Linked DNA regions of Homo sapiens. The protein of the gene in region 2 purifies or fractionates together with the protein of the main gene of each other region. This does not show direct contact. Each region holds a gene or a part of one and is shown on either strand. Other genes may lie near its edges.

Region 1 (7,031 bases), on a different chromosome or scaffold from region 2:
AGAAACAATAGCCAACACCACAGACATCTCAATTGGTTCAGCTTACATGATTCTGACCGAAAACAAAGTTGAGCAAAGTTCGCACTTGATGGATACCAAAACTGCTGCACCCAGATCAACTGCAGACAACAGCAGAGCTTTCGATGGAAATTCTAAACAAGTGAGATCAAGACCCTGAAGCATTTCTTTGAATTGTAACGGGATGAAATGTGGCTCTCCCAGTACAATCCTGAAGACAAAGCCCAATCAAAGCAAAGACTGCCAAGAGGTGGAAGAGGTCCAGTCACAGCAAAGATGGACTGGTTCAGAGCAGAGATCACAGCAACATTTTGGGGGAATGCTCAAGCCATTTTGCTTGTTGTCTTTCTAGAAGGCCAAATGATGAAGACATCTGCTTATTATGAGTGTCTTTAGGAAGCCAAAGCTTTAGCAGAAAAACACCCAGGAAACTTCACCAGAAAGTCCTTTTCTGCCACAACAATGCTCCTTCTCATTCCTCTCAAAGAAGAGCAATTTTGCAAGAGTTTCTGTGGAAAACTATTAGGCGTCCACCTCACAGTCCTGATTTGGCTCCTTCTGACTTTGTGTCCTAATCTTGAACTAAATGACCTGCATCTTTTCCAGTTAATAATGTAAAAGAGACTGCATTGACATGGTTAAATTCCCAGGACCCTCAGTTCTTTAGGGACGAACTAAGTGGCTGGTATAACTTAAAAAAGTGTCTTGAACTTGATGGAAACTGTGTTGAGAAATAAAGTTTATATTTTTAATCTTTTAACTCCATTTTTCCCCCACAAACTTTCCCCCTCATATAATACAGCAATTCAATATTGCCTGACAAAGGACTTTGACACATTGTAGGTATATTCAGTTGAGTCACTCCTTTTACTTAGGAGCACAAGTTGTATCTCCATGCACTTTAATGTAACAAAGCTTCGGCTCTTTGAGCACTCCAGTTCAGATTTTTCCCCTGCCTCACTGGCTTCCAGCCTCCAGTCCCAGCTCCTGAAAACCTAACCGGCTTCAGTGAAAGAACTGAAAGCTGAGCTTTTAGGGATCCTCCCAATACCTCCACAGCTAAGAGGGGTGGGGTGCCGTTCCAGGGCCAGGACTGTCACAGAGTTCACGCCCTGGCTCCCACCTCCTCCCCTCCTCCCCCAGAGGCCGTCGCCCATCCCTGATCGCTGCACAGGTGGCCCCTGGTGGGCTCGGAAGCTGTATTTGAGGCTGCTGCGGCCCCACCCCCAGCCAGGTGACAGCCTCCGCGGCCACCTTCCTGAGCATGAACTCATCCCGGCCCTGCTCCCCTCCAGGAGGAATGGGAGAGTTGAATAATTCCTCAAACTTAGAAGGGTGGCCAGCCCACGGAGCCGAAGGGCTCCCACATGGGCTAGACAGCCGCGTGTGATCGCCAGGTAAGGACGCGGAAGTGACTGTTCCTACCCAGCCCAGACCTGTTGGCCCGGGCGGGTGTCCCGGGAATCGCATACCCACGCAACGCGCGTGGACACCACACGCACACACAACTCTGCATGGAGGCGTGTGCATAGGCACTGTTAAACGTGTTTTGGCCACCCAAGAAGACGAACAGGAAAACCAGGCATTGGACTATCCAAAACTTGTTTTCTTAAAGGTGCATAGGGCACATGTGAAGAAAAGGCCTTTGCCCCTCTCACTACTGACTCCAGGTTGAAACTCGAGGGGTCCCGGGCGGCTGCAGCGCTGCCGCGAGCTCCCCTGGAAGCGGTGGCTTGTCCCTAACTTTAACCACAGCAACTGCTGCGGAACGCGGGCGTCTCCGCCCGGGCTGCACCTGTTCCCGATTCGGAGCACCCAGCCTCACACATCCCTTCTGACCTTGAAGGCATCCTGAAACTCACACCCTGCTCCCGGTTCGACTTTACTCCAACCCCCTCCCCGCAGTCACTGAAGCCCTCTTTGTACCAAAGAGGCCGCGTCAAAACATCCATCCCCAGCAAATTCACAATGCTCTTCCCTGGGGTCTCCGGAGATAACGGCGCACCCCTCTACCCATTGCTTACCCTCACTCCATCCAGCCGCCGCGCCCTCACGCCAGGTTGTCTCCTCCCTCTCCACCAAGTCCAGAACCCCCACCTCTCCCAAGTCCAGGGTTCCCTGTTGTGGGTATGCGGGAGGAAAGGACGCCTCGGAGGCGCGCCCTCGAGAGCCGGCGCCGCAGAGCCCCTGGGGTGGGGTCCACGGCGGGGACAGGGGACAGCAGCGGGAGCACCGCGGGGGCCCGTCCCGCGCACGGCGCTCAGAGCTGGCAGGGTCGCCCTGCCGTTCGGGGAACTCGGTTGGAGCCGAGCCCAGGCAACGAAAGTGAGGGGCGCGGCGGGGAGGGGGCGACAGCCCTGGCTTGGTGCTGAGCCGTGGCGCTGCGGAACCTCTAGGAGCCGGGTGGCCGGTCAGTGCGGGCGTTCCCGGAACCGCCAAACTTTCTCCGCCAACCGAAGTTAGGGACTCCGAGGACAGTGACGAGGAGGACACCGCGGAGGGGGGTCTCCCGTCACCTCCCGCCTCCAGTAGCCGAGGGAGAAGGCGACCCTGAGTACTAGGTGGCCCCGAGCGCGCCACCCCGGCCCCGGGGCGCCTCCCTCGCGGCCGCGCTCACCTGGCTGTAGAGCTCGCCCACCGACATGGCCCGGGCCGGGCGGGGCTCGGGCCCCGGCTCCTGGCTGCCCCGCGGCTCTCAGTCCGCGGCTGGCCCGCCTGGCGCCATGTTCCCGGGCTGGCCTGGAGTTTCTCGATCTTCTCGCTCTTCTCCGACCTGCCCCGCCGGCTTCCCGCAGGCGCCGCGGCCGGCTCGCTCCCGGCGGCGCGACCTTTACTCCCGCCGCGGCGGCGCAGCTACGGCCGGACAGGAGTTGCGAGCGCCGGGGGAGGAGGCCGCGCCGCACCACTCCCCTCCCAGGTGTGGGGAGGAGGCGAGGGCCGGCGAGGAGGGAGGACCCGCTCGCGTCAGAGCGGACGGCCCGTGCGCCGCCGCGCCTCTGAGCCCTGCCGGTGCCCGGCCCGACGCGCCCTCCCGCGCCCCCGCTGCCACCTGGGCCTCCGGGCCGGGGGCGGGGCGCTCAGAGAGGAGCTCCGGGACCGGCGCGGGCCGCCCCCTGCTGGACGCCGCGCGCGCGCAGGCACAGGTGCGCCCCGGCGCCCGCACCTGCCCTGCCGCGCTCCGCTTCCACCCGCACCGGGCCCCGCGGAGTCCGGCATGAACGCGGTGCAGACAAGAAAAGGGAAGAGGAACTAACCAGAGAGGGGGGAAAAAAGAGAAGCGTCTATGGCTGGAAGGCCCCAGACATTGCCCTCGATTTTACCTGGCTGTATTCAGCGCTTTCATGATTAAAATTCAGTTACTCGTAGATCGTTATTAAGGCGACCTGGATATACATACACCAGGGATCTTCTCCTTCAAACTGAACTCTCTGCGCGGAAATCCTTGTCAGTAAAGTGGGAGTCGTAACTCCTTCTGTACAAATATTGTCCACTTTCGCCCACAGCCTCCAAGGAGACTCCAGGCCACTCATCTCAGAGGGCTTCTGCTTTTCCGGGAAGTCTCACGTTCTCCCAACCCCCGTCTCGTCTACATGCAGACTCCGGGTCCTTTTGCCACTCACTACCTCGTTTATTTGTGTTCCCTCTCTGACCATGGCACTTGGCTGCCTGCAGCAACTTCAGCTCCTCTCCTACTTCCAGTGAAAAGTAGAAATTTCAACCAAGAAAAAAAAAAAAAAACTGCCAGAAGTCTGTGGAGGGAGACGAGGGGCTGTCAGAGGAGACACTCCCTTCTGAAGCTGACATCTGTCCCTGACCCAGGGGTGGCCCCTGAAAAGTGGTTCTCAACCGGAAGATATATCTGTACCAGCCGGGGCAGTTGTTCAAGAGCCCCAGAAGGTGATTCTCAGAGGCATCCCACCTGGAACTCAAGATCCCGTTGTAATTCACCTGTGCAGGCCTTCCCATGGGCACCTCCACAATGAGAGTCACATGGGGAGCTTTAAGCGTTCCAAGGAAGAGGCCCCAACCCAAGGAATTCTGATATAATGAAGGATGGGACCTGGGTATCCCAATTTTTAAAGCTCCTCTGAAAGTCTAAAGGATGGTACTTCCAGGGTGACAAATGCATTGACCAAAGCTTGGGCGGCTCTCATTGGACCTAAAAATGGAACTCTTCACATCAGTGGCAAGAGCAGAAAGGGATTTTTTTCTCTTCCTCAAAAGTTTTTCTGCATATTTCCCTTCCCCGGATTCCTGTAGCTCTTAAAGTGTGTCCCCACCCCCCACGCCCACCATCAGCATCACCTGGTAACTGTTAGAAATACAAGTTATTGGGCTCCACTGCAGACCTACTGAACCATAAACTCTGGTGTGGGGCCAGTACTCATTGTTCTTTCTGCCTCCAGGTGATTCTCCCCTTTTTGAATAAGAAAGTCATCAGTCCTGCCTAGATCCTGGCCTCTTCCTCCACCACCATTAGTGGTCCCATCTCTCTACCAGCAACTCTTCCTCTCTCCACTGGCCCCTGGCTTTTTGTGTTTTCCTCTCCTGCTAAACTTCTTAAAGCAGTAGCTTCACTTATTTAGCTATCTCCACTTACGCCCAGTACCTCCTTAATTCTCTGATTCTCAACACTTTATGCACATCAGAATCACTTTTGAAACAAGTGGATGTCTGGTTCCCACTCCCAGAAATTCTGATTTAACTTGTCTGGGGGGTGTTGCCCTGGGTGAAAGGATTCTGAAGAGCTCCCAGATGGTTCTAATGGCAGCCAAGTTTAAGAGCTGCTGTTCTGGCCGGGTGTGGTGGCTCATGCCTATAATCCCAGCACTTCGGGAGGCCAATGTGGGCCGATCACTTGAAGTCAGGAGTTCAAGACCAGCCTGGCTAACATGGTGAAACCCCGTCTCTACTAAAAGTACAAAAATTAGCTGGGCGTGGTGGCGCATGCCTGTAATCCTAGCTACTTGGAAGGCTGAGGCAGGAGAATCGCTTGAACCTGGGAGGTGGAGGTTGCAGTGAGCCGAGACCACACCACTGCACTCCAGCCTGGGTGACAGAACAAGACTCCATCTTTAAAAAATAATAAATAAATAAATAAATAAATAAATAAATGTTGCTGTTCTAATTTCTTCTTATTTGGCTTCCACTCAGACCTATCCTATTGAAATTGCCTCATCACTGTGAAGCATGGGGTGGGAATTGATTCAACCCATTACGTTAAACCATCTCTTCCCTGAGTACTATTTTTCTCTTGTTTTCTCAGCCTCTCTAACCAAACCTTCTCAACATTATTTTCTAGGCCTGCGTCCTCTTCCTGGTTTCTGAATAAAACTATGCTCCATTTCAGAGATCTCATCTTTCTTCTCAGCCACGCCCCCATTTTGTCTCTTGCTCACAATGCTAATTCTCAAATCTAATTCTAACCTTACTCAAGATCCACCTTTCCACCTGCAGATAGGCAATGGTAACAATGCCACTTGGACCTCGGACCAACCTGACATTCATTTGTTTCCATCCTTTCTCCCCACCCGTAACTGGTTCCAACTGTCTGGCTTCCATCACACCTGGCACAAATGAAAAGCTCAATTCATGTTAACTGAACTGAATCGCATTCCTGAGTCCTACACTTGGCCAGAGCTTTGTGAATTTCTAATTCCACAATCAGATATGGTGTTTCCCTCCTTTGAACAATAAAGACATTTTAAAACTTACTTGATCCAGGAAACATACCAAGCGCTTTACTTCTGTGATCCTGTTGAAGCCTCAGAGCAACCTTATAAAGGAGGTTCAGAATATTAAGGCTGTTTCACAGATGGGCAAAGTGAGGCTTAGGGAAGAAGGGTGTGAAAAACACTCTAGGTCAGACAGCTACTGTTCAATTAAAGTCTCACTCGAGCGTCTAACCCTTGCTTTTTATGTCAATGGATGTTGAACTTCAGTGTGTACCAGGATTAAGGGGCTATCAGGGGATGTTAATTCAGTTGGTCAGAGACATGATCAATGAGTCTGAATTTTTTTTTTTTTTTTTTTTTGAGATGGAGTTTTGCTCTTGCTGCTCAGGCTGGAGTGCAGTGGTGCCATCTCAGCTCACCGCAACCTCCGCCTCCCGGGTTCAAGCGATTCTCCTGCCTCAGCCTCCCGAGTAACTGGGATTATAGGCATGCGCCACCATGCCTGGCTGATTTTGTATTTTTAGTAGAGACGGGGTTTAGCAGAGATGGATCAACCTCAGGTGATCTGCCCACCTTGGCCCCCAAAGTGCTGGGATGACAGACGTGAGCCACCATGCCCGGCCTATGAGTCTGCAAATTTAATACATATCCCAGGTGGTGTAGGGCCCACACTTTGAGAAACATTGCTCTGTGCTCCACGGCTTCTCAAAGTAAAAAGAAGATACCTGTTGGAAATGCCTTAGTCTCCTTCCTGACAGGTGAGGATTTCCCTCACACAAATAATAAAAAGTGAACTTCCAAGGCATTCATTTGCACCCTGTATGATATGTGAACTAATATCCCTTTCTCCTCCTCACCACTAGGTTCTAAGAGTCTTGAGGGCAGGGACCACACCTGATCCATATTTGTGTCCTCTGCACTTCCTAGAACATGACTTGCACAAAGTTGATCACAGTAAATAGTAGGTAAATAGAGATATGTTTTGAGCCAAGTCTTAAAGGAAGTACTGCTCATTAATTAGTGGAAAAGAGAAAATAAAGGGATTACTAAACAGAAAAATTTGCATAAGCAAAGAAAGAGAGGAGGGATTCCACTAAGAAGAAGGCTTCTTATTCACTGGCCCTTCTGTGAAAGCGGTTTATAAACTATACAGTGACAGTTAAAATTATTTTCTTATGGGCTGGACACAGTGGCTCATACCTGTAATCCCAGCACTTTGGGAGGCTGAGGCGGATCACTTGAGGTCAGGAGTTCACAACCAGCCTGGCCCACATGGTGAAACCCCATCTCTACTAAAAATACAAAAATTAGCATGCCTGCAGACCCAGCTACTTGGGA
Region 2 (7,024 bases):
TCCACTTAAAGTGCACCATTCAGCCCGGGTGAGGTGGCTCACGCCTGTAATCCCAGCACTTTGGGAGGCCGAGGCGGGCGGATCACGAGGTCAGGAGATCGAGACCATCCTGGCTAACATGGTGAAACCCCGTCTTTACTAAAAATACAAAAAATTAGCCGAGCATGGTGGCAGGCGCCTGTAGTCCCAGCTACTCAGGAGGCTGAGGCAGGAGAATGGCGTGAACCTGGAGGTGGGGAGCGGAGCTTGCAGTGAACCGAGATCATGCCACTGCACTCCAGCCTGGGCAACAGAGTGAGACTCTGTCTCAAAAAAAAAAAAAAAAAAAGAAAAGAAAAAAAGAAAAAGAAAACAAAAATGCGCCATTCATTGGTTTGTTCTTTTAGCATATTCACAGAGTCGTATAACCATCATGATCAATTTTAGAACATTTTCATCACCTCAAAAAGAAACCTCATGCCCATTAGCTGTCACTCTCCATCTCCCTTCAACCTTCCCAGCTGTATTAACCTGTTTAGGCTGCTCTAACAAAATACCACAGACTAGGTGGCTTAAACAACAGAGACTTATTTTTGCACAATTCCGGAGGCTTAGAAGTCCCAGATCAGGGTCTTGAGGGGTTAGTTTCTGGTAAAGACTTTCTTGCTGGCTTACAGACAACAGCTTCTCTCTGTGTGTTCTCACGGTGACTGGTTGGGGAAGGAGGTGTTGCAGCAGCTCTCTGGTATCTCTTCTTATAGGGACACCAATCCTATCAGATCAGGGTTCCACCCTTATGACCTCATTTGACTTTAATGATCTCCTTACAGGCCCTGTCTCCAATTATAGTCACTCTGGGGGTGAGGGCTTCAACGTATGAGTTGGAGGCACACATTCCAGTCCATAACACCAGCCCTAGGCAACCACTAATCTACTTTCTGTCTCTACAGATTTGACTGTTCTGTACGTTTCATATATTGTATGGAATTGTATAATACATGGCCTTTTGTATCTGGCTTCTTACACTTAGTATGATGTTTTCAAGGGTCATTCACGTTGTAGTACTACGTTTTTTTTCACAGCTGATAATATTCAATTGTATGGGTATACCACATTTGTCTTATCCATTCATTAGCTGGTGAACATTAGACTTGTTCGTACTTTTGTTATTATGAATAATGCTGTTATAAATGTTCGTGTACAAGCATTTGGGTGGACATACATCTGCTGCATCATATGGTAACTTTATGTTTAACTTTTTGAGAAATTGCACAACTATTTTCCAAAAGGGTTGTATCATTTTACATTCCTACCAGCAGTGTATGAGAGTTCTAGTTGCTCTATATTCTCATCAGTACTTGTTATTATCTGTGTTTTTTTATTATTGCCATCCTGCTGGCTGTGAAATGGTATCTCATTCTGGATTTGATTTGCATTTCCCTAATGGATAATAGTATTGAGCATTTTTTCATGAGCTTTTTGGCCATTTTTATATAATCTTTGGAAAAATGTCTATCCAGATCACTTGCCCATTTTAAAAAATTTATTTATTTTTATTTTTATTTTTTTGAGATGGAGCTCTGTCACCCAGGCTGGAGTGCATTGGCACAATCTCAGCTCACTGCAATCTCTGCCTCCTAAGTTCAAAGGATCCTCCCACCTTAGCCTCACGTGTAGCTGGGACTGCAGATGTGCGCCACCATGCCCGGCTAATTTTTGTATTTTTAGTAGAGACGGGGTTTCGCCATGTTGGCCAGGCTGGTCTGGAACTCCTGACCTCAGGTGATCTGCCTGCTTCAGCCTCCCAAAAGTGCTGAGATTACAGGCATGGGCCACTGTGCCCAGCCACTTGACCATTTTTATTTTTTATTTTTTATTTTTTATTTTTTTTTTTGAGACAGTCTCACTCTGTTGATCAGGCTGGAGTCTAGCGGCGTGATCTCAGCTCACTGCAACCTCTGCCTCCTGAGTTCAAACAAATTTCATGTCTCAGCCTCCTGAGTAGCTGGGATTACAGGCATGCACCACCACGCCCGGCTAATTTTTGTATTTTTAGTGGAGACAGGGTTTCACCATGTTGGCCAGGCTGGTCTCAAACTCCTGACCTCAGGTGACCCACCCACCTTGGCCTCCCAAAGTGCTGGGATTACAGGTGTGAGTCACCACGCCTGGCCCATTTTTAAATTGGGTTATTTGTCATATATTATTGAGTTGTAAGAGATTTTTATGTATTCTAGATATGAAACTCTTATGAGATACATGATTTACAAATATTTCCTCCCAATCTGTGGTTTGTCTTCTCACTAGTGTCCTTCGCAGCACAAATGTTTTTAATTTTAATGAAGTCCAAGTAATCTACTTTTTTATTTTGTTGCTTATTGCTTTGATATCTTATCTAAGAAACCATTGCCTAATCCAGAATCAGAAGGATTTATGCCTATGTTTTCTTCCAAATGTTTTATAGTGTAGTTCTTATATCTAGGTCTTTGATTCACTTTGAGTTTTTATATATAATGGGAGATCACATGCTGTTTTTGAAAACGAGTTAAAGTGGTAAACAATCAGGAGTTTAAAAATATGCATCTATCTTTGGTTTTACTGACAATCATGTGATATTTTGTTAAACATACCATTTAATAGAAAGAAAACAAACTTTAACCTCTAATGAGGCTGATATTCTCAATATTTACTTTAAAAATGTGATAAGCTTAGAGTTATTAGAAAAGGCCTTTGACATTTTTGTTTTTACAAATCAACTGCTTTCAATAAAGACTTGAATAAATGAAGCCATATTTTTATGTTATGTAAATAATATTTTTGAAATACATTAAAAAATCTGTATTATATAACATGTTATAATTATATGGCTTTTTGTTTAATGCAGTGGCTCTCAATCAGGGGCAATTTTGCCCCTCAAAGGAAATTTGGTGGCTGGGCATGGAGGCTAATGCCTATAATTCCAGCACTTTGGGAGGCCGAGGCTGGTGGATCACCTGAGGTCAGGAGTTCAAGACCAGCCTGACCAACATGGTGAAACCCCGCCTCTACTAGAAATACAAAAATTAGCCGGGCATGGTGGTGGGCATCTGTAGTCCCAGCTACTGGGGAGGCTGAGACAGAATTGCTTGAACCCGGGAGGCAGAAGTTGCAGTGAGCCGAGATCACGCCACTGCACTCCAGCCTGGGCAACAAAGTGAGACTCCATCTCAAAAAAAAAAAAAAAAAAGGAAGAAAATAAAAGAAATGTGGCAATGTTTGGAGACATTTTTGGTTGTCACAACTGGGGGCAGTGCTACTAGCATCTAGGAGATAGAGAGCAGAAAGGCTGCTAAACAATCTCCAGTGGGTAGAGTGGCCTCCACAACAAGGAAGTGTCCAGCCCAGAATGTCAGTTGTGCTGAGGTTGAGAAACTCTGCTTTAACTAAATCCGTGGCCTCTACCAGATAGATTCGAAAAGAGATGAGAGTTTGCAAACCCTTCTCCCCTCAGTTACAACCCCTGAATTTCTTCTATCGCAATACTTAGCCTTTCTGGGGCCAGAACATGCCCCAGCATCTTACTGCCATTAAAACCCTTTATGGTAATGAAAATCTGTAGGCCTTCCCTGTGGGGATCCTTAAGAAGCATGAGCACTTGCTTTCACTGCTTAATTCATTTTATAATTGTGTGTTTTAGTTTTTTGAATTTATATTTGGATAATACATTCCCTGTTAAACATACATATTTGGGTAACCAATCTCCTATTAACATATATTCTACCTGATTATATAACAATAGAAGGGATCATAAGTAATAATTTTTGACCGTTTACTATGTTAGGCACTGTGCTGAGCACATTTTCTGCATTATCTAGTTTAATTTTCTCAACCACTCTATGAGAGAGCAACTCTCATTATTCACATTTTACAGCCATGGAAACTGAGGCACAATGAGATTTAGGGGACTTGCCCAAGATTGTGTAGTTGTATCATTATTACTCCAAGTCAGGGCTTAAGCCTGATGTAGGGTCAACTGTGAAGTGCAGGCATGTCACAAAGACTTTGGATTATTCATTATGGGTAGTCACACATTGATGTTTGCAGGGCAGTGAGGTATTGTCTCACTCTCTTGCATCACCATAAGCTCCCTGCTGTGGAAGAGAAGGCGTGGGCACACACAGCTAGCTACAGGAAGTCCCATCAAACCTGGGACATGCCCACAGAAGCATGGCTCACCTGGGAGCATCACCTGTCCTGCCTATCATGGTGGACAATATCTGAGAACTGCTGCTTAAGGAAAAGTGGGATGTGTGGAGCATCACTTATGTTCCTGATGCCCCCCACCCCAAAGTCAGTCAGGCCTTGATTTTCTACCTACTGTCCTCTCATAAAAAGCTCCAACTCCCAGTGTCTCTTTTGATCTGTGGCCTAAATCTCTCTGCAAGTACACCAGCACCACCTGCCAAGCCCATTATCTGTCTGTCCGGGCTCTGTGCTGGGTGGGCCCTGCTCACTTACAGCCCTCCCAGAGGCAGGATCACACCCCGGTCTCCTGATCTTACAGCCACTACTCTTACTGAAACAGCACTGTGGTGTTATGCATAGTACACCTTTTAAAAAATGATGCATTAGTTAGGCCAGATGTGGTGGTTCATGCCTGTAATCCCAGGGCTTAGGAAGGCCGAGGTGGGTGGATCATGAGGTCAGGAGTTCAAGACCAGCCTAGCCAATATGGTGAAACCCTGTCTTTACTAAAAATACAAAAATTAGCCAGGTGTGGTGGCATGCGCCTGTAGTCCCAGCTACTCGGGAGGCTGAGGCAGAAGAATTGCTTGAACCCGGGAGGTGGAGGTTGCATTGAGCCGAGATCACACCACTGCACTCCAGCCTTGGTGACAGAGAAAGACTCTGTCTCAAAAAAAAAAAGTAAAAAAAATTAAAAAGATTCCTTAAACAGTAGTATTCCCTCCCAAGCTGTATCCCTCTATGTGCCAGGCATACAGTGATCTTCATATCCCTGATAACAGTCCCCTCACAGAGGCAGCTTTCAGAAAAGGATATGGAGTTTGTGACAGTGACTGAAGATATGCATTTTAATGGTACAAAGATTGAAAGTGGGGCTGGGAACGGTAATCCCAGCACTTTGGGAGGCCAAGGCAGGCAGATCACTTGAGTTTGGGAGTTCGAGATCAGCCTGGCCAATATGGTGAAACACTGTCTCTATTAAAAATACAAAAAATTAGCCGGGCGTGGTGTCAGGCACCTGTAATCCCAGCCACTCAGGAGGCTGAGGCAGGAGAATCGCTTGAACCTGGGAGGCAGAGGTTGCAGTGAGCCGAGATTGCGCCACTGCATTCCAGCCTGGGTGCAACAGAGCGAGAGTCCATCTCAAAAAAAAAAAAAAAAAGGTTGGAGGTGGAATGACTCTTCAGTTTAGTCAGTTTGAGGGTGCATATCTTTTGGGTGATGTTCTGCCCATACCAGCCACCCATGTATTCCTCTAGCTCTGCAAATGCAGGGAACAGGGAGCACACAACGATTAGAAATGGTCATCCTCCTCTCGTAAATCTGAAGAAGAACGCTGGTTTTTGTTCTAGATCTGTCCTGAAATTCCTTGGGCAAATCTTTCCTTGCTCTGTGCCTCAGTTCCCCTAATGGGAGAGTGTGTGCACTGATGATCTCTAAGCATCCTTGCAGCTATAAACTTCTTTGACTCCCTAAGGTACTGGGGGCTGAGTTAAAGTGAAGCCCATGAGGATAACTCCAATCCCCCCAATAGGAATCTGCTTTAGCAGTAAGCCCACACCTAGAAGCCTGCTTATGTTTGAAGAAGAGAAGGGAACAATTGGTTGATGTTATGTTTCTTGAGATACCCATCTCCAGGGGCGACGTTCAAAATATTTAACCACCAGTGTGTTGTGAGCACAGACCCGTCAGGAGGTTAGAAGGCAGCGGGTAGGGCCAGCAGGGACTGTGGCCAGAGAGCATGCCCCGTCCTCCTCTTAGCTCTGCAGGGCACTGCTCACCTCGCTGCTTTCCTGGGCCTTTCTCCAGCTTTTTTTTTGGTCTGCCTCTTCCTGCCTGATTCTCCATCCAGGGCCCCAGCTTAACCCTCTTTTGGCTTCTTCTCTCTCCGGAGCCACCTGATACTCAACTCAACTCCTGTGAATATCTTTATGCATCCAAACAACAACTCAATCATATTCATCACTCAGCAGATGCTCTTTCAGTGCCCTCTGTGCTCAGACTGGAGTCGGCTGCCTTGACCCCTCACCTCCTCTCCTTCAAAAATGTTAGAGGCAGGGATGGGCTGGAGGATTGAGACCTGAGTCCTAGCCTCTCTCTGCCCCTTGTCTGCCTTTGACCTTGGACAAGTCCCTCCCTGTCCTGGGGTTTCAGATTCCTTACTTGTAAAACGAGGAACACCATGGATTCCATGAGCTCTGAGGTCCCTTCTGTTCGATGATGAGTTTCTGGAGAAGTGCAAGTCTTCAGCAGCTGACCACTCTCTCTTTCTCTCTCTCTCTTTCTCTCTCTCCTGCCCCCCCACAACCTCCAATGTAGAATGCACTGCTGCCTGCAGGCCTGAGGCAGAAGGATCAGACCACCAAGGCGCCCACGGGCCCCTTTAAAAGAGAGGAGCTCTTGGATCACTTGGAAAAGCAAGCAAAGGAGTTTAAGGACCGAGAAGATCTGGTCCCCTACACAGGGGAAAAACGAGGTACTGAACAATGTTACTGTTATAATATGCCACTCCCCATGCACCATTGAGTGCCGACTGTATGCCAGGCCCTGCCAGGCCCTGTGTTGGGCCAAATGTGACTGGGCCTCCTTGTCCTCATCCCTGCCTGGCCAAAACACCCAAACCCAACTTCAAAAGCATCTATGGATGATGTAGATTTCATGAAGTTTTGGGGGTAGACTGAGGAAAGACTCCTATCCACTCAAATCAGCAAAACTTTTCCCTAAACCCTCTTTCACTAGGATGTCCTGATTATTTTTTTACGCAAACCTAAACAGTTTTGAGAGTAAAAGAAGAAACTGTTAATAACGACATCAGGACTTT
Region 3 (6,864 bases), on a different chromosome or scaffold from region 2:
ATGCCACTTCCTCCAGGAAGCCACTTCTGAGACCACTGGCCGGCTGTGATTCTCTCTCATGTCCAAACCTTCAGAACACTGTCTACGCCCTTTTTATATCAGATCCCTTCCTGTCTTCGGTTAGCATTATTGATCTACAGGTGTCAACCCCTTTCTGACCCAACTCCTGGAGGGCAGGCAGGTCCTCGCCGGGTTCCTCCCTGACTCTCCAGTCTCCCCAGGACAGGAATTTGGATACCATGGCTTGTATCTGTTGAGTCAATGAGTGAATAAGAAAGTACTGAACCCAAGACGATTTTGTTGATTTCTATAAGAACCCTGATGAATTCAAGGAGTAGATATTTGCCATTTGAATAGTGATTTTCATTTTCACAGTTGAGAAATAGAAGTTAATTTGTACTAAAACATAAGATGTCACACCTGCTCCCTCCAACCCTATCAATCTGTGCTACTCAGCACTAGTAACAGCTGCACCTACGGCTGGGTTTTACCGGGAGGGGCGTGTAAGAAGCTCTCATATTTACCCACCGCCTAGTTACATACTTTACATTGCTACCCACTTTCTTTAATTCTGACAGCCAGGGGAGGTTTCTTCTTCTCCATTTTAGAGACGAGAAAACAGAGGCCCAGAGAAGAGTGAGTAACTCACCTTCCTAGGATGGCACAGCTGGCTAAGAACTATGTCATTTGAAAGCCCAGCTCTGACTCACAAGTCTATCTCTGTAACTCCAACTGCATCTCCCTCGGTGGGAGGGAGGACCTCAGGGCTCTCAACCCAAGGAGTGTTCCCTTGCCTTCCTTTTCAATCTATTTTATAAAAACCAGCAGATAGGCTGGGCGCAGTGGCTTACGCCTGTAATCCCAGCACTTTGAGAGGCCAAGGCGGGAAGATCACTTGAGGCCAGGAGTTTGAGACCAGCCTGGCCAACACGGTGAAACCCCGTCTCTATTAAAAATACAAAAATTAGCCGGGTGTGGTGGTGCGTGCCTGTAATCCCAGCTACTGGTGAGGCTGAGGCAGGAGGATCTCTTGAGCCTGGGAGGTGGAGGTTGCAGTGAGCCGAGATCATACCACTGTACTCCAGCCTGGGCAACAGAGTGAGACTGTGTTAAAAAAAAAAAAAAAAAAAAAAAAGAAGAAAGAAACACCAGTGGATAAAAGGCAAACTCTGGAAATTTTCATTCTTCTCATTCTTCTGCCCCATAACCACTGACATCAAGACAAGGCTTGCGATTCACTGGCCACCTCTGGCCCTTGCAGGGAACACTTGTAAGGCACTGTGGTCAAATGCATACATAAGTGACTGTCTTCACAGGAGGGAGTTATACTCAAGCTACTATATTTAGCAAATGTCTATATTTAGCCAAAGGTCCTTTAAATGCCTTGTACTTCTTTTGTTTATTAATTAATGTAACAGACATAGACAAACACCTAGTATGTGCCTGGCTCTGTGCTGAGCTCTTGGGATACAAAAGTAAGATATTTCCTGTCTGGGTGTCACCTTCTACAGGTGGACAAATAATGATAAGGTATCCTGACTGCCATGCCAGGCGCGGGCATGCCATGGAGGGCCGTGGAGCCAGGGAGACTTAGGCCTGGTGCGATGTGAGAGGGCTGAGTCTGGAAGGTCTCCTGGAGGTCACAGTGGGCTTCCAGGAATGAATAAGGGTTTGCCTGGAAAGCCCTTTTCTGTATCATACAGAGAAAAACAGAAGTCTTTATTCACTCAGTAGTCAACAAATACTGAGTGACTGCCACATGTCCGTAAGAGCAAAATCAGGTATTTACAACTACAAACACCTAAGGATTGGTTACAGAGTAGATCCCCCAGAATATCTGACGGATACAGCCAGACACCACAGTCCAAATGGCTTGGAGGTGTTTCCTGTGGGAAGAATCACATGTGGAAAAGCCAACACGGAAAAGAACCTGTAAGGCGGGTTACAAGGCAGAGACTTTCTTTGCATTCATACACCCACCTGGCACACAGTTCAAATGGTACAAAGGGAACACAGTCAAAAATTAAGCTTCCTTTGTCCCCCTGGGGCCGCAACCTATTGGCTCCCCTTTTCCCAAGCTGCTGCTCTCTGTCCCTGTACGGCTTTCTGGATGTCATGTACATTCTTTAGCCTTAAGGTAGAATCCTTGCGGAAGGAAAAAAAAAAAGGCATTTGTACAAATACCCATTCTAGTGCGCCTTCAATTTGTCACAGGTAAAGTTCATCACCAAACATGATCTTAGTTACAATAAACTCTGTCCAGGAAACTTTAATGAAGACGTTTCAGTGTGCCTGGACCCGTTTCCAGGCTCAGTCCTGAAAGAAAAATCACAGTGATCCCCAAGTTCATCTCTGAGCTGCACCTTGAGTGACATCGATGGATGGATGACAAATGGTCACCTGAGCGACTCGGCCATTTCAGCAGGGCCATGTGGCCTCCGGCGACCGTCCACTGCCTCCAGGTCGGGCCTAAGCCCCCGCCTCCTCCCATGCCGCACAACAAAGCGGGGCGCTCGCCCCCACCCGGCCAGCCCGGGCCACCTCGCGCGCTGGCGGCGCCCGGCTCCTCTCCCGAGGGCGCAGCGGCCGACGGTGGCCGGGGTGGGGGAGGGCGCGCAGCGTCGCGGGCTGGGCCCGGGGCTGGAGAACGGGTGCGGGGTCCGCAGGCCTCGGAGATCGGGGCCGGGGCGCAGCGCCTGGGGATCAGCGCCCCGGCGCGCGCCTGCCCGGCCCACCCGCCTGGAGCCGGACGCGCAGTGGCACAGACGCACAGCGGGACAGACGGACGCCGGAGAGACCCTGACAGCCGTCCGGCCCCCGCGCCCGCCCGGCGCCCCCCGGCTGCCCTCCCGGAGCGCTCACCTCCCGCGCGATCTGGTTGAGCGCGTCGTCCTCCGCCGTGAGCCGCTCCCGGTTGGGGAGCCGCTTGCGCCCCGATCCCTGGGTGCCCATGTCCATCGACCGCGTCGCCCGCAGCTGCCGCGGGGCCCGTTGCTCCAGCCGCTCGCGCCGCCCCGGCCCGGCCCCGGCCCCGGCCCCTCCCTCCGCCGCGGCGTCATGGCGTCAGCGGGCGCTGGGCCGGGGACGCGGGGACGCGGGGGGACGGGGGCCGCGGGGACCCGGGGGAAGCCAGAGCCGGAGGTCCGCAGCGCGGGCCAGGGACTGCAGGGGCCAGGGACGGCGGGGCGGGGGACGGGGGCGGGGGGCGGAGACGCCAGGTGTCAGGGACGATGGGGGTCCGATACCACGGGGACGCTGCGGATGCCCAGGGCCGGGCACGCGGGACCTGAGGGACCGGGAGCCCCGGAGGGTGGACTTTGCGGGGACTGTTTGGCGGGCCGGTAATCGCGGAGCGACGCGCGCCAGGGCGGTGGGCACCGGTTGAGTGGGGACCTGAGCGGAGAGCGGGGGGGTAGGAAGGCTTTCAGAGGCCTGAGTTGCCTTGAGGGGTTTGCACGGAGGGGTGAGCACAGGATTTGGTTCAGCCTGGCGCTCCCCATTCCGCGGTGAGTCGGGGTGGAAGTCCCTCGCCGGGGTGAGAGCTAGGCTCTGGGGTCAGGCCGAGAGGTGCTCGGATCCGCCCGCCACCGCCGCTCCTGTGACCTTGGCCAGCCTCCTGGGCGCCGGCTTCACAGCGGCATGGTGTGGATGTGTGCGTTTCTGTCTTTACACGCGTGTTCTCCGTGCTAGCATCCATCCTTCTCCCCGCTGTCTGCCCCCTGAGATCAAGGACTTGTCACTTCTCTGGTGGGTCCCCAGCCTCTAGGATCGGGGCAGGTGCGTCGCAGCTCTCTCCTAGTTGTTGAAAAAGTAATGAACTTACCTGTGCTCTCTGAAGCTCACAGTCTATGCTCCAGAGGTGGATTTAAAAGTAAAGCAAATCGGAGGATTAGGTAGGGGTTAAAAGCCCCTGCCTAGGGCACGGCAGGAGCACCGGGTGGGAAAGTTACTGGTGTGTTTGGGGTATGGGGAGAACTTCAGTGTGGCTGGACCTGGGGAAGGATGGGAGGGAGGGTAGTGATGGTAGAGGAGAGGAGGCTGTACTGAAGTCACCTGTGATTTTTTTCCCCCAGTGATAAGGACAGTTAACATTTCGGTGTATTTCCCACCAAGTGGTGTGACCAGATTGCTTTGGATTCTTAAGGAGGTGGCCTGGAAGCTGTATGAAGGTGGGAAGAGGAAGAGGGCCCTTCCACCCACAGTGGCAGGGAAAGCTGTTGGAGGTTTCATTGCAGGGAAAAGACAGCGAGTCCAGTGACATGGGAGGGAGGGCAGATCCAGGTGACATTGCTCTGGGTGCCTGAGCTGACGCAGGTGGGTTGGCAGGGCTGACTGTGGCATTGTTCATGACTGAACTCCGGGAGCAGAAACTGCACCTGCACATTGTAGGCACTAAGGAAATAGGTGTTGACTGAATCTTCCAGGCCATATTTACATTACTTCAGAGGCCATACTCCTTAAGTGACATAGTCCTCCTTGGGGGAAACCTTGAGCCGTGGCCACTTGCACTGCCTTGGTCTTGCTGGTGGCTGCTCACTGTTTCCCAGCCCCTGGGGCACTGTGGGGACTGTGCGTCTTTGCCGAGGCTGGTCCCCATGAGTTCACTCATTCCTGCACCCACACCTGCTGCCTGCCAGCTGCTGAGCTGGAGGCTGGGGCATAGCTGTCCGAGAGGCAGACACGGCTGCTGCCTCTCAGGGCTGACTTGAGATGCCTGGAGCTCCTTAACTAAAGCCATATCCAAGTTCCAACGTCTCCTTTCTAAAAGAAGTCTCCCTTTGCTCCCTGTCCTTCATTGGAACTTTGAGCCACTTTTTGCTAACACCTAAATCCTCCATCCTGATGTGTTGAGGCCAGGAGGGCAGGCGCTGACCCCATCTTCCTCATCTTTAAGCCTTCACCAGGGACTGGCTGTGCCAGTTGCTTAGTGGAGTGCAGTGGTTGAACTTGTGGAACAGAGTTCAGTTCCCAACCCTCCTCCCCACTTTCCCTGTTGGATTGTTGTCCAGAGACAGGAGATTCACTGCCGTGGGGACTGGCCAGAGGTGTGTCTGAACAGCTCCCGCTGGTAGACAGTGTTCTCGGACACTGTGGTGAATTCAGCTTCCTGCCCCTCCCCCATCATCTGTCCACTTCCAGAAAAGAGCCGCCTTTCAGAAATCATCAGAAACAACATTGCTGGGTCCTCCCATGACCCCATGACATAACAACTTCCTGGCTACAGTCCTCTTCCCCTGGCGATGTGCTCTCAGAGTGGACCGGTTCTCACTTCAGAGTCAGTTTCCGCCTCTAAATGGAAATACGGGTGCCCACTGTCTTAGTTCCTTTGTGCTGCTGTAACAGAACGCCTTAGACAGGGTCATTTATAAAACCACGGAAATGTATTGTTCACAGCTGTGGAGGCTGGGAAGTCCAGCATCAAGCCTCCAGCAGAATCAGTGTCTGGTTGAGGCCCATTCCTCACAGATGGTGCCTTCTGTGTGTCATCTCATGGTGGAAGACGGGCTCCCTCCAGGCTTTTGTGTAAGGGCACTCATCGCGTTCATGAGGTCTCTGCTTCAGGACCTGGTCACCTGCAGGCCCCACCTTGCATTGAGGGTTAGGTTTTGACATATGAATGGGGGGGCCACCGCCATCCAGACCATGGCCTCTACCTTGTCAGGGTAGGGACAGTATTCTAGGCAAGAGCCCTTCCAGGGCTTCACACACAGGCAATCGATCAATCATCCTTACAGCTCCTGTCCTCAAAGGCCCAGGTCTGGAATGAATGGTGAACAGCAGTTCCTGTCTGGGCAGAGGGGAGCTAGACAGAGGTATCAGGCAGCTTGGTGGGTCTTCTCCGTGCTTGGGGTGCCTCCTGGAGGAAGATAAAGACCTGCAAGACTCCATCATGCTGATCCATGGGTTCACCGAAAAATTGTGGCTTTTCCTCCACCCTTGACCGTCGGCCCTCCCTGCGTGGAAGTGCATGAGCCTGTTTCCACTGAGAAGACTGGCCTCTGCCACCAGCACTACTGACCCCTCCCATCTAGCCCTTTTCCTATTCCAGATGGTGACACTACCCACCAGGGCTTACTTCAGAGCAGGAAATTGAGAAACTATATCACAGATCTGATGTCCAGGGCCAGAGAATTAACATGTTCATCTCCAAGCCTGGTACCAAGTCCCTTCACAAAAATACAGATGCCACCTTCAGGAAGCCTCCACGAGAAAGTGGAGGCAGCCAGGGAAGCCTTGGCAAGGGAAACCACACAGCGGCGCCGTCCCCAGCGCAAGTTTGCCTTGGTTCAGGAGCTCAGTGGGCAAGCCCTGGGGGCTGGCTGGGAAAGGAAGTTGATGAGCAGCTACGGAGGGGCGTCCAGTCTGCATGAGGACTCAGAGCTTCTCAGGCAGAGAGCCATCTGAGCCATCATGTGGGCCATAACGTGACTCACTCTGGGTCCATTGAGAGCATCATCCGCGTGGGCCTACCTCAAACCTCTTTCACCAGCACTCCAGCCTTGCTCTTCCAGTTCCCAGAGGATGGAAAGCCCTGCTTTGGATTACAGCTGGAGCAGGGCAGGAGAACTGCAGCCCCCCCCCAGGAATGCTGAAGGACCCGTAGAGGAGAGCCATCTCTCACGCATGGAACTTGGAGCCAGCACTCTGCCCAGAAGTGGGGCTGGCTGAGGTCAGGGTCTATGTGTTGCTCAGGAGGTGAATGGTGTCTCCTTTGTCCTGCTGGACGTTTTCAGGTGCATCTTTCAGTAGCTCAATCACAGCACTTCCAAAATAAATCAGTGGATGATGCCTGCCCCAATAAATGCCTCTTCCTTCCCAGGACACCATCACTTCCAGTAACTTTTTCATGTTTTTTGGAGTAAA

The links. The genes of interacting proteins can lie anywhere in the genome.
Region 1: the proteins of TMOD1 (region 2) and MYO5B purify together in Homo sapiens (affinity purification with mass spectrometry; 4 studies listed by BioGRID and IntAct, with this or other methods). This does not show direct contact.
Region 3: the proteins of TMOD1 (region 2) and LRRFIP1 purify together in Homo sapiens (affinity purification with mass spectrometry; 4 studies listed by BioGRID and IntAct, with this or other methods). This does not show direct contact.

Annotation. Positions count from the first base shown.
Region 1 is NC_000018.10:50,192,132-50,199,162, forward strand, and holds the start of MYO5B (unconventional myosin-Vb), read right to left. Parts: upstream 3,017-7,031; 5' UTR 2,663-3,016; coding exon 2,636-2,662; intron 1-2,635. UniProt on the Homo sapiens protein: May be involved in vesicular trafficking via its association with the CART complex. The CART complex is necessary for efficient transferrin receptor recycling but not for EGFR degradation.
Region 2 is NC_000009.12:97,539,663-97,546,686, forward strand, and holds part of TMOD1 (tropomodulin-1), read left to right. Parts: intron 1-6,522; coding exon 6,523-6,679; intron 6,680-7,024. UniProt on the Homo sapiens protein: Blocks the elongation and depolymerization of the actin filaments at the pointed end. The Tmod/TM complex contributes to the formation of the short actin protofilament, which in turn defines the geometry of the membrane skeleton.
Region 3 is NC_000002.12:237,623,739-237,630,602, reverse strand, and holds the start of LRRFIP1 (leucine-rich repeat flightless-interacting protein 1), read right to left. Parts: upstream 3,017-6,864; 5' UTR 2,959-3,016; coding exon 2,863-2,958; intron 1-2,862.